Regions from separate parts of the Homo sapiens genome. Here all the other regions are reported to be linked to region 2. Evidence: microRNA targets listed by miRTarBase, many of them from high-throughput screens and not tested one by one. Region 2 holds a microRNA gene; each other region holds the end of a gene's coding sequence.

Region 1 (4,220 bases), not on the chromosome of region 2:
AATAATAATGATGATGATGCATAATAATAGGTAATATTTATTGAGCACTTTATATGTGCCAGGACCATTCCAAGCAATCAGATGTTTTGGCTCAGTTAATCTTCAAAATAACTGAATGGAAGTTAGTACAGATAACAATGCTGAGGCACCTAAGGTTACAGTGACAAGTGTTCAAGCCGAAATTCAGACCCTTCATGGTCTTGATTCAGGGCCTGAGCAGTCACACAATATGCTATTCAGGGCCTTTTCATCTTTAACGTAATTTTTACTTAATTAATTGGAAGTGTTTATGTAAATACATGATCAACTTTGGGCATAATCTGATTGCATTTCTGTTTAATAGGGTTAATTTCCAGAAATAGAATTTCTGGGTTGAGGGCATAAGCATTTTTAAATGATTGTCACTGTGTCTTTTCTCACAAAGCAGTAGCAGCTTTCTAAAAGTATCCAGTTCCTTTGTAGCTCCCACTTCAAGGGTTTTCATAATGAGGCCTAGTCTATAGCAGTGAGCTTTCCTGCTTATTTTTTCATTCTCATAGATGTGTTTATTTTTTTAGGATCGAGGAAATAACAATGTAATGAGCAATTATGAGGCCTACAAGCCTTCCACAGGAGCTATGGGAGATCGACTAACGGCAATGAAAGCAGCTTTCCAGGTCTGAAATAAGCATTTCATTAAAAGCACTTTCAGCAGTAACTCTTGGGCAGTGACAGAGGGGCTTAGTTTTCCTGGTTGTAGCTGGGCGCCTAGGCTTGATGCTAGATTTAGGGTCTTCACGCTGCTTGGATTTTGAATATAAACCTAACAGTAGCTTAGTTGGAAATGCAAGTTGATCTAGAGAACCCCTTGTGCTGGTCTACTTTGAGTCACACTTGGGGCCTGGGATTGTTGTCCTGCAGCAGGGTGTGTGTTCCCTCCCTTCCCAACAGCCTGAAGTGTTGCCCACCTCCCAGGCACCCACCTCCAACTCACTTCTGAAGCAAAATTTACTGATAGTCACACTAAGGTGAATCGATAGAATGAGTTCAAGGCAGGTTTTGCTGTCAAACTTAAATTGCAGTATGAAAATTTTTTTTAAGTTTTCAGAACTTTTTGGTTTTGAATGCAGATAAATGTGCTAAATACATAGATGCTTTATTCTAGCCAATCAGGCTATAAAAGTACATTTCAGAACACTGGGGGTCCATCTCTCCACAGAGATCCACAAGTTTTCCTTTATAGCACAAGAACAAAAGGGACCATACTGTGGGGCCATCAGGACACTAAACTCACAGTGCCAGGATAGCACAGAGTTTCTGTAAACCTCATCATTTGCCAAGTTGTATATTCAAGTTTCTTGAACTTGCTATCTTACCTACTCCTGATGTCTCTTTCTCTTTCAGTCACAGTACAAGAGTCACTTTGTTGCAGCCAGTTTAAGTAATCAGAAGGCTGGAAGTTCTGCTGCTGGGGCAAGTGGGTGGACTAGTGCAGGGAGCTTGAATTCTGTTCCAACTAACTCAGCACAACAGGGCCATAACAGTCCTGACAGCCCCGTCACCAGTGCCGCCAAGGGCATCCCAGGCTTTGGCAATACTGGCAACATCAGTGGTGCCCCTGTGACCTACCCGTCTGCCGGAGCCCAAGGAGTCAACAACACAGCTTCAGGGAATAACAGCCGAGAAGGGACTGGGGGCAGCAACGGGAAAAGAGAGAGATATACTGAGAACCGGGGCAGCAGCCGTCACAGTCACGGAGAGACTGGCAATCGGCATAGCGATAGTCCACGTCACGGAGATGGTGGTCGCCATGGAGATGGATACCGCCATCCAGAAAGCAGCAGCCGTCATACTGATGGCCATCGGCACGGGGAGAACAGACATGGAGGAAGCGCAGGCCGGCATGGGGAGAACCGGGGTGCAAATGATGGTCGGAATGGGGAAAGCAGGAAAGAAGCTTTTAATCGTGAGAGCAAGATGGAGCCCAAGATGGAACCCAAAGTGGACAGCAGCAAGATGGACAAGGTGGACAGCAAGACAGATAAGACAGCTGACGGCTTTGCTGTCCCAGAGCCGCCTAAACGCAAGAAAAGTCGATGGGACAGTTAGAGGGGATGTGCTAAAGCGTGAAATCAGTTGTCCTTAATTTTTAGAAAGATTTTGGTAACTAGGTGTCTCAGGGCTGGGTTGGGGTCCAAAGTGTAAGGACCCCCTGCCCTTAGTGGAGAGCTGGAGCTTGGAGACATTACCCCTTCATCAGAAGGAATTTTCGGATGTTTTCTTGGGAAGCTGTTTTGGTCCTTGGAAGCAGTGAGAGCTGGGAAGCTTCTTTTGGCTCTAGGTGAGTTGTCATGTGGGTAAGTTGAGGTTATCTTGGGATAAAGGGTCTTCTAGGGCACAAAACTCACTCTAGGTTTATATTGTATGTAGCTTATATTTTTTACTAAGGTGTCACCTTATAAGCATCTATAAATTGACTTCTTTTTCTTAGTTGTATGGCCAGGCAGTCCCCATTTTAGGAGTTGGCTTCTGCAAATTCAATCCATTGAGCTAACTGTTGGGGAGCAATTTGGTAGTTGTAGACATTTGCAGGGAAGGGAGATGTCTGATTCTAAATGGGAGTTGATGCTCAGGTCCCCAGCCAGGTTTGCATCCAGCCCTGAGACATGTAGGAAACACCTTTCAGACCCAGGCTCTGAAGATTCCCAGAAGCCACAAGGATTGAAGGGAAAAGGTGATCCTGGTAACTGTTCCAGGATTGCTCCAGGTTTGAGATGGTATTGCTAAATTTAAAATTAAACAAGAAACCCAACAACAGCTTTTAAAGTGTCTTCTATCTCATTGTATTTTTTTTAACTTGCCCCAATGATAGAAAAGTCTTTTGCTGAAATGATTTTGATGATTTTTGTTTATCGTTTATAAAAAGGAAAAGAAATATACAAACTTTGACTTTTGTGACTTTGTGAAGGTTTCTTTAAGATGTGCATTCCTTTCTGCTTGCTCTCTAGTAAATGTTTTACTACCGGGACCTGTGGATCGTTTGTCATTTCTGTCTATGAATTGGTACATATTAAGAATAGTGCCGCACACAGTGTAGGGACAGATAGGGAAGTGCTTATTAAAACTGTCAGAAAAGACAACTCTTCCATTATCCTGGTTTTATTCAGGAATAGGATGGGGGTGGGGAGGGCTTAAGTGGCCCACACGTCCAGGTGTAGACTGACTACATTGAGTATCGCTCCAACACCGAACTTCCCTTTAACGGTTTAAAAAAAGGGTCATGAGTGTCAACACAGTTCAGCAGTGTTTTCATGGGAGACCTTCAGGCAGGCAGGAGGACATCCTCCTCTCTGCTCAGGACCACCACGGGAGTTCTAGGCACTCCACCTCACTGTTCTTCAGACAGCTGTGATGTGAGCAGGGGCTAGGCCGGTAATCAAGGGGGCCAGACTGAGCCATGCCACACCCTTCCTCCTAGTCCCCATGCTCTCCTGGGAGCCTGGCAGCTCTGCTTACTTCCGTTTGTGTTTTTTCTTTTGTTCCTTACGTTGCTGTGCTCTTTGGTCCTTCTTCATCCTTGAGTCCACCACCTTGAAATGACCTCTGACTCCAGCTGGCCGGCGCACTTTGCGGCCCACACCTTTTTTGGCTACAACGTAGGTGACATGGCGTTTCTCCTTGCCAAGCCCAGCCTTCTTGTAGAGACTACAGGGGGGAAGAGAAGAGGTTAGAGGCTTGCTTTCTGCTGCACTTTTAGCCCTGTGTACCTTTGTGGTGTCCTCCCATTACCTTCGCAGCTGTGCCACTTTCTCTCGTTCTGAGATGTCCACTGTGTTCACCACGGCTTCTGCCTTCTTCCTGGTCTGCTCCAGCCTCTTCAGCATCTGCAAAGGAACCTGTCAGGTGACCTCTTCCCCATCCCCCCACCCCCACCCCACCCAATCTCTGGAGGCCCCATCACTTACCCTCCTTTTCTTTCTAGCCTTAGCCTCAGCCACCTTCTTGATGGGACGTGCATTGATTTCCCGCCAGCGTTTCCGGTAATGCTCCACCTCCTTCTTACCAACAGGCAACTGTCGTATCCGGTGCTGCTTTTCCTCTTGCACAAACCACTCCGGAAGCTCCCCCTCATCCTCATTAAATGTGTACCTGAGTGGAAAGGACATCTGTCTAATATCCAACATTCCAGGCTTTCTAAAGAAATTACCAGACTGGGCACGGTGGCTCACGCCTGTAATCCC
Region 2 (4,720 bases):
TTTGATTAGGCTATTTCAAGGATTCTTGACTGTCAATTGGAATTTTAATTGGAGACTTTAACAGCAAATAACCTTTATAGCATATGATTTACATAAATAGATATTCAACAATTTTAATATAGCCACATAATGAGGAGGTTATTCAGTGGGGTCTACTTCCTTCCCCAGCCCTAGTAGAGATTAAAGAGAGAATGTCCCATTGTCCTCCAAACTCCTCTGCCATACAAGTAACTGACTCTGGGTCCATTTGGAGAAACTTCTACACTCAACCACATAAACCTCATAATTCAGAGTAGTTGAGGCTGTATTCATTGTGGCATTCTTCTTCCACCTCATTAAATACCAGGCAGGCCCCTTTGATCAGGTCTCCATGGCAGTGCTGCCCCTGGTACACAAGTGTGTACCCATTTAGGAAAAGACAGTAACTGCTTACCTGCACAACCTAATTATATGGAGATATGGTCTCAGTCCTTTAACAGTGAGACAGAAACAGAAATCCAAGCTCCAGGGACAGGAAAGTCTACTGAGATCAAAACCCCTTCTTTTGCCCCACAAAAACAAAACAAAACAAAACAAAACAAAACAAAAAACCAAGAAAACCTGTAGTTAATTTCTGCCAATTCCTAGATAGGACTTAAAAATTAAACCTCTTCAATAAAGTATTTACATACTGCCTCTTACAAGGGCATATGGTAGTAAAATAAATGGATCTATATGCTATTCTGTACCAAGCATGAGTGCATGAAATTTTACCAGCTGGGAACCTTTATGGACAGAGACCCTGTGTGTGAACAGGCATAATTGCCTATACACATGCTTTTTATGGGGAGAAGAGATAGTGGAATATTTATTTTTTTCATTTGAACAAACTAACATAGGCAAAATTTTCTAGAGCTTAAAATTTCAGAAAAACTGCAAAGACTAACACCTGGTCTTGGAAAAATATTTACCTTGATGATTACCACCTTCCTGGTCAAGAACTGAGCCTGTCTTCTTAGAACGTTAGAGCTAGAGTCTGAGATCTAATGGAGACATTAAAGCTGATAAAAATAAGTTTCAATGTTAGGAGCCATTAAATGGGCAAATTAACCATTTGTTTTTATATGAGAAAAATAATTTATGTGTTGGCTGGTAGAAAAGATTCCAGTTATTAATAATACATTTAAAATTTACAGTAATTGCTGAAACAAAGGTTTTTTAATAGAAAAAGACAACTTCAATAACATTATATTTATGTATAAACACTTCCATTCTTTGTTTCCAGTTATTATATCATCATCACACATTTATATCCAGAATGAAAAGTAAAATAGCCCAAATAATAATTTTTAAAATTAAAAAAAAAACTGAAGCAAAAAACATGTTAAATGGTGTGACATGGAAATACTGCTATGTCTTAGCTGCAGTAGGGCTAGAATTCTGATCTCGTAGTTCCCTTTGCTAGATTCTTCCCATTGCACCAGGAAGTACAAATTTAAATACCACTGCCTCTCATTTGGCATTGGAGACTGATACTTTGACTCAGGCATTATTGAAAGTGAACTGGACTAATGTTTGATAGAATTGCCCTAAAGGCAAGAAATTATTTATCACTCTATCTTTAAAACAAGAACAGTGACCTGCTTAAGGGATGCTCAATCAATATTTATTGAATACATAAATGAAGGTGACCAGTGTCTGGGATGCCCACAAAACTGTTTGAAAAGAATCACAAGCACCAGGCAAGCTGCTGAAGATACTCCAGGGGAACAGATTACTGTATTCACTTGAAATGGAGGAAATATGAACAGCTGCTTATCTGCAAATGGTTCCTGCTTAGAATAAGTTTGTGTGCATTTGCAGGAACTTGTGAGTCTCCTATTGAAAATGAACAGGAGACTGATGAGTTCCCGGGAACACCCACAAATCTTCCTACTCATTTCTACTGCTTTGCAATGGACAACATTTTATGGCTGGTACCTTCCACTGTTGTCAGTTCCTCCAAGTTCTGAGTATAAGTTTAAGTTCTAAACAAGGAAGTAATGTTGAAAATGCAAAATAATTCAGTTAGGCAAGGGTTAACTTGTCCACTCAACATGGATGTCAGTAGGTTTACTTGAGGTGTTGAATCCCACCAAGGGAAGCATCTCTAATAGTCCTGATCTTATCTTTGTAAACTCAGCAGACATTCTACAAGACATAAATTATTCAATGAAATGAATGGTGCCAGTGCTTATGTGAAAGATAATTTATAGACCTTGCAGGAAAGGAAAAAATTAAAAATCATATGTATTCCCTTAAACTTTTTTTCTTGGTTGTATCTAATCAGGAGTTTAAGTATATAAATGTTGAGATTGTTATCTAATTTTTTTCTGAGAAAATATTTTCTCTGTTCATGTTCATGTGTAACATCAACTTATGTAATTAGTCTTTTTATATTTCAGGATTGTTCAATGGACCACATTTAGCATCAGCATTGATAGCATGAATCTGTTGTTAAATCTCATAAAGCAGCCTTTCATGAAACCACATAAGGTTGATCCTTTATAATCTGTTTATGGTCTTCTTTTAACAAGAGTGACAAATTCAATTACTGAAGGAGGAATATAGTAAATGTATGAAGTTGATGATGTGTATCCTACATTAGTGAGTAGCAGAGACTCTACTCATAGTCATACCTAAATACTTTCAAATTCACTTAGAAAAATGAATCATATCTAAAGGTTATATTTGTGTTAAATATTCTATAATAATTAGTGATAAAGTTCCTCTCAGTGTTTTTCTACATTCCTCAAAATGTTATCTTCAAAACATTCAATGAAGTTCTTACATGTAAGCTGGTAATACAAATCTTACCTTCATTTTGACCTGTCTTTTTTCTAAAACAATGTGCAGCCTTTAAATTTTTTGCAAATTAAATCCAGTTGGAGCTTATTTCTGTAGGATTTCTTCAATTGATTTTAATTATCCTGGCATAAATATGGAAAAATATTAAATCGATTGAAAGCATGTTTTCAGACAGAAGTATCGTCAATCACTGGTCAGTAGACCTTTCTGTTTCTCTTTCACAATCTAGGATTACAGTTCTCAGCCTTTTTGTTTGTCTTTTTGCCCCACATCTAAACCCATGATCCTTGTGTCTGTGTGATCACACTGCTGGATGTGGCTGAGATAAAACAATGTGTTGGCTGTATTTTATTTCCAGTAGCTTGTTGTGATGTCTCCTCTGAAAAGCTTATCTTACTAGAATGCAATAAGGTGGCATATATGTCACCCTGAACATGCCCTTCTTTTTTTTTAATAAAAGCAAATCATCCACTAACATTACTCTTTAATATTAGTAACAAATTACTGGCTTCTGCAACATGTCATCAGGTACAATCAGGAGAGAGTTGAGAATCACTTTTCTGGAATGTATAGTTCATCCTAATGCCAACAGTTTTTTTAAGACCAGGGGCAAGTTAGAACAATAGGCCTCATTCAAGGAGCTCATCTGACCCTTGACTTTCAATAACTAGAGAAAAAAAAATCCTTTCAATTTTTTTCCCACATGTAGATCAATAACATGGAACTTATATGTCAGCATCAACTCAGCAGACATCTCTATTGAGCATCTATTTTCAACTGTTCTGCCAGAGTCTGGGGTTAGAAACTGACAAGCGTGTTTGTATAGCTCTTTGTTCATCATTATTATAATGGACACAGCATTATATGTACAAGGTCCTGCCTCACTCGTTGGAAATCATACATTAGGCTTTCTTGTTCATACCCTGCTCTGCATTACCTTAAGCAATGAAATGTGGTCAACCCACTGGGGAACATTTCTTAAATATCTAAAATATGTTAGATCCACTTCAGTTTAAAAGCCTGCATCTCTAATATTAACTTGACGAAGCTCTAACTACTATTTCTATATTATTTCTCTCTCATTTAATGTTCTGTTTGAATGTATTATATTCAGTTTATCTCAAGTTGCCTAAGTGGAAACTCCTAAATGTGTCTCACAATTGCATGTTATCTCATAAAAGCAAAGTTTTAGTTTAGTATTGAATTCATTCTAGGATTCTGTAGATGACACTAGCTAGCCTCATTAGAATAAATTATGGGAAATTACATAGAGAGAAAAACAGACTTTCACCTGTAAAAGCGGGAAATCAAAAACAAACAAGCAGTACATATATTACTTAAAATTGGAAGAAAAGAAATAAGCAACAAAAGAAATTATGTGAGTAACTGTGGTATATTTTGTGCAAAAATCCAGTGGCCCATACTCTTTCCTGGAAGGTAAGACTCTAATTAAAGTTTCATTTGTCATTACCCTCAAATCCAAGGAGTAGCCCTGTCATTTTAATTAAATACCATTAACTGAAAGATTACTGCCTAGTATGACTTAATTGGCTCTTCAAATTACTCTTTCTAGAAGGAATATACCATTTTAGACCTTCCATAAAAGCTTGTTTTAAAAATTTTTTTCATAGTACCATTTTAGCTTAGATCCAATTTTTTGAGCCTCCATTTTCTATCCTAATTATGTTAGCCAATAATGTCTTTCAAATATATCAATGTTTTATCTTCTCTGCAATTAATTTTCTTCCCCTTCTCACTGTATATTTCATTTCTGAGTTTGAGTAAAGGCATGTCAGTACACTGAAAGCAAACATAACTCGTTGATTTAGTTAATTTATGAAAATTTAGGAAATTTAAAGCAATTCTAGGTTATTCTATTTATTTGTATCAATAC
Region 3 (4,220 bases), not on the chromosome of region 2:
TCCCCAACCATCCCCAGAGCTGAGAGAGGAAACCCTCCACCCATCCCACCCAAGAAACCTGGCCTCACCCCTTCTCCATCTGCTACCACTCCATTGACCAAAACTCATTCCCAGGCAGCCTCTTTGACCACTGCAGAAGACCTTGCCAGCAGCTGCTCTTCCAATACTGTTGTAGCAAATGGTAAGGATGTTGAGTTACTTTTGCCTACCAGCAGCTAGTCCCTAGGAGGGAGTCTCCACGTTTGACATTCCATCAGATTTCGTCCAAAAGCTCAGTCAGACTTCTGAGTCAGATTATGTTATTTATTTTGATAGTAGCTGAAACCATCTGTATAATACATTTAGTATATTTCACCATTTTGTATTTTTTTAAGTAGAAACTGAGTAGTTTGGATTTTTATGGCTCACATCTTTTTACTGAAGCCAGAAAGGCACCTCAAAGATGTCTCAAGCTCAGCAGTCACCGTCATGTTGTGATGAAGAAAGCGAATCACCAGGTGGTGATTTGCTATCTATTTGAGAACTAGAATCACTCAACACTCATTTTGAATTATGCAGAAGTGGTTCATGCAGATTTTTATTCCAGATGAACATGTTTTAAAAGTGCCTGAAATATGACTGCCATATGAATGTGATTCTGCAGCAAAAAACACAAAATAGATCATTTAATTACAGAAAATGAGATCCTCTGTGAATTCTGAATGTTAAAAACCAACACTGCTTTTAATCCTCTTTTAATGTTTTAATACAAGCTTTGTGTTCTGAAACAAGGCTGCATAAGTAGAATGGGAATCCTTCTAAAGGTGGGTGTGAACTCACCACAAGCTGAGCTTTATAGAGCCCTTGAGAAACCCTCCTGAGCACTAAGCAGTTGGGGTGCTGATTTTCTTGTACTTTTGAAAAATTAAGTCACTCCCAGTTTCCTGCATAAGTTCTTGAACAGAATGAAATCACATCTCCATTCAAAAAATGTCTCAAGCATCTACTGTTGTGTAAGGAACTTCTGATTCTGATTGCTGTTACTTGAATAGGAAATGGTTACTCATTCTGTATAAAAGTTTTGCAAGAGAATGAATTTTTTATTCTGTAATCAAAAAGCAATAACTTGAAATTCACTCTGTAATATTATAGGTCAGTCAGAATTATACAAGTTTTACCAAATTGTTACACTTATTCTCCAAGCTGCCAGAACCTGGTATCTGTATCTGTAAAACCAAATTAACTTTTGCTTAAATGGGAAGTATACATATATCTGTATAGATACATTACCCCTTTACATGTTTAACATACACACACTTAAACACATAAATACTAGTGTGATTATATCTTTGGAGTTTGCAATATAGCATAAAGGACAAGTAGAACTGCACATTAAGATTACCTACCGAAGCAACTAGATGTGGCTGGGACACAATCAAAGGAGGAATTTTGTCCACAGGAAGGTGAGGAAATTCCAAATGAAGCCTAGATCTTCAGTATCATAAAAAGGCAGAGCTGGCCAGGCACAGTGGCTCATGCCTGTAATCTTATCACTTTGGGAGGCTGAGATGGGAGGATCTCTTGAGACCAGGTGTTCAAGACCAGCCTCATCAACATAGTGAGACCCCATCTCTATTAAAAAAATAAATAGGCAGAGCTAAACTAACCCCAGTGTCACAAAACTCAACTGGTCATATAAATGAGTGAAACAGGCCTCTCACACAAGCGATGTAAAACAGCTGGGAGCAGTGGGAGCTGTGGCAAACTAAAGTGCCCAAGCCGCATTTAAAAAGGGCATCTGTTCAGCTCCATCTGCTTGCTGCGGTGCAAGAATGCTAAACCAGGATTACCAGTTCTTCACATTTTTTGAAATCCAAATTTTCATGAGAAACATTCTCATTTTTAAATATCAAGAAGTGATTTTAAAATGTTTAAATGGTGCTGGTTAAACAAACACGTCTGCAGCTGGATTTAGCTTGCAAGCTGCCAAGTTGCAACCTCTTTCATTCTAGAAACTTCTGTCATTTTCATCATAGCAAGTCTATGCGGACAAAAGCCTCCAAACTTTCCAACTGTGTAGGCCAGTACAGCTGGCAAGGTTCATAGAATATAATGGCTATCCCCCTCTGCCAAATAAGACTATCCACAACCCAGCTCAGACACAGTGGTTATATGATTTTGTGTCCATACAGGAGAGGCCTTGGTGTCTTCACATACATTCTCTGAGCCAACATCTATCCAGCAGCCCTGACCTCCTGCTATAATTTAAGTCTATTTCCTTTTAATCTAATAAGAGTTGATAGTAAAAAGGCAGGTGATGGAAATCAGTGTATAAATCACAATGGAGTATATTGGCAACTCCACAGCTTATAGTTTGATAAAGGCAAATACATGAAAAATAAAAATGCTACTAATGCCCCAAGGTGTCTATCAAAATGATGTAGGGGGTATCTTAAACTGTCCAAGGCAATCATGCATTGAACTTTATTCCTATGCAGAGCCAAAACGAATAGTGTTGATAAAATAGCTAAACTTTCTAAACTGGAGAGGAGGCTACAGTGCCAGAGAGTTATTGTCTCTTTTGCTTTAAATGGTAATCTTAAAAGTTGCATTGTGCTCTTCCTTTGTTTTGGGATAGATATATATAGAGAGAGATACTATAAGGAAGTTTATTTCTTAGGAAGTGCACTGAATAATGTATTTCTTTTACAGTGTAATATGGGGGTGGGGATATGCGAAAGAAATGTGTATTTTTGCTAGTTGCCTACCTTCTGAGATAAATAAGCACAATCTTGCAATGGATCCAATAACCCAGTTAGGTATTATAGATTAGTATTTAAGTTTGCTGTAGATTGTGTGTGTGTGTGCTAAGTAAAAGTTCCATGATTCACAATTTTAGTATTAACCCATGTTGCAAAAGCTGTTACTGGCCAACAGATTGTAATGATGTGTACCATATAACACAAGCATTAACTAGGCATTAACGTTTGTAAAGCCAAATATACCATGCAGAAGTCTTCATTTTTATAGCAGACTGCATTAAAACAAGTTAAATCTTGCTGTTTGGGGGGAAATAGTCTTGTTTGTACAAAGTGAAAAATGGCACAATTTGGGCATATTTTGTTGGGAAGAGGGGGTGGTGTAGAGGGAGCACTTGACTGTGGCTTTGACAAAACAAATGAAGTCAATGACCCATCCAGGTTAGACTCCATAAGGAACTAAGACATTGATTTTCTTTAGAGTCTTAGAGCTGGAAAAAGCCTTTACAATAATCCAGTCTGTGATTTTTTAAACCTTTTGGTGGTTCTGGACCTTTTTGAGAATCTTAGAAAAGCCATGGAGTTTATCCCTAGAAAAATGAATATGCCTATATGCAAAATTTGTTTGATGGCTTCATAGGATCCAAAGACCCTGAAGCCATCCATGGCTCATGTATTTCTGCTTAAGAAAGCATAATCTTGTTCTGCTCTCTCATTTTACAAATGATTAATGCATCCCTTTTCAACTACTCCAGCGCTGTTGCTGCTGCAATGTTAGCAAATGCAAGCCAGAGAGAAGCACTTGAAAATCCTTTGATGTCTAAAAAATGTTCAAATAGTGTGGATGTTTACATATCTGAAGTTTTCAGCATTTAAGCAAATTAATGATCATTTCAACAAATACTAGCATATCCGGTTTCCCTTAATAGCCTGTCAGCAGTGCTGCCTTGTCAATTTGTGTGTGTGTGTGTGTATGTGTGTGTGTGTGTGAATTCATAAGGAGTGCTTCTGATGCTTAGTCCTTGAAATGGAACTTCAACTGTCTTTCAAAACACTGGCTTCAAAATAGGATGTGTTTTCCTAATGAATCAGAAGTGGGCAATGAGCATTGTTCCACAGGAATAATTTTTAATTTAATTTCTATAAAACTAGTTGAGAAATGAGAGCCTGTCCACCCACCATTTGTGTATCAGTGGCCAATTCATTAGTAAAAATAAAGGAGGGGAAAGGAGACTGGAGTAGTGGTTCTCAAACTTTACTGTGCGTAAGTATAACCTGGGAAGCCTGCTAAAATAAAGATTTCTGGAGATTAGATCCTCAGACTAGCTGATGCAGCTAGTCTGTTTTGAGAAACAGTCCTTCATAGCCCTTACCTGTTCTTTCACAACAACTTGCTATTTGCCTCTGACCTAAGGAAATGTCTTAAGCTCCTGAAACTGGTTTGGCAGAATGTCAGTGATATTCAGAGTCAAGAGTGCCTAC

What was found. The annotated mature microRNA hsa-miR-873-5p reads GCAGGAACUUGUGAGUCUCCU and lies in region 2 at 1,839-1,859, shown strand. An mRNA with a match to its seed (bases 2 to 7 or 8) in the 3' UTR can be bound and repressed. Matches are read on the target gene's strand: a 7mer-m8 pairs with bases 2 to 8, a 7mer-A1 pairs with bases 2 to 7 and ends in A, and an 8mer does both.
Region 1: miRTarBase lists FTSJ3 as a target of hsa-miR-873-5p. Seed matches in the 3' UTR shown: 7mer-A1 at 3,143-3,149.
Region 3: the mRNA of CTTNBP2NL is a reported target of hsa-miR-873-5p. The part of its 3' UTR that is shown has no 7-base or 8-base seed match.

What each region holds. Positions count from the first base shown.
Region 1 is chr17:63,816,311-63,820,530 of GRCh38, forward strand. FTSJ3 (FtsJ RNA 2'-O-methyltransferase 3) reads right to left here. Exons shown (of 21, transcript NM_017647.4): 19 at 3,945-4,128; 20 at 3,769-3,863; 21 at 3,123-3,684. The coding sequence ends at 3,492. DDX42 (DEAD-box helicase 42) reads left to right here. Exons shown (of 18, transcript NM_203499.3): 17 at 558-656; 18 at 1,384-3,007. The coding sequence ends at 2,088. Among named protein-coding and RNA genes, the nearest start is that of PSMC5, 9.0 kb to the right of the region's middle. RefSeq lists an enhancer at 3,515-4,220.
Region 2 is chr9:28,886,064-28,890,783 of GRCh38, reverse strand. It overlaps MIR873 (microRNA 873), which reads left to right and starts at 1,829; the gene lies at 1,829-1,905. All of the region lies in intron 2 of LINGO2 (leucine rich repeat and Ig domain containing 2), which reads left to right.
Region 3 is chr1:112,457,194-112,461,413 of GRCh38, forward strand. It overlaps CTTNBP2NL (CTTNBP2 N-terminal like), which reads left to right. Exons shown (of 6, transcript NM_018704.3): 6 at 1-3,971. The coding sequence ends at 219. Among named protein-coding and RNA genes, the nearest start is that of MIR4256, 2.5 kb to the right of the region's middle.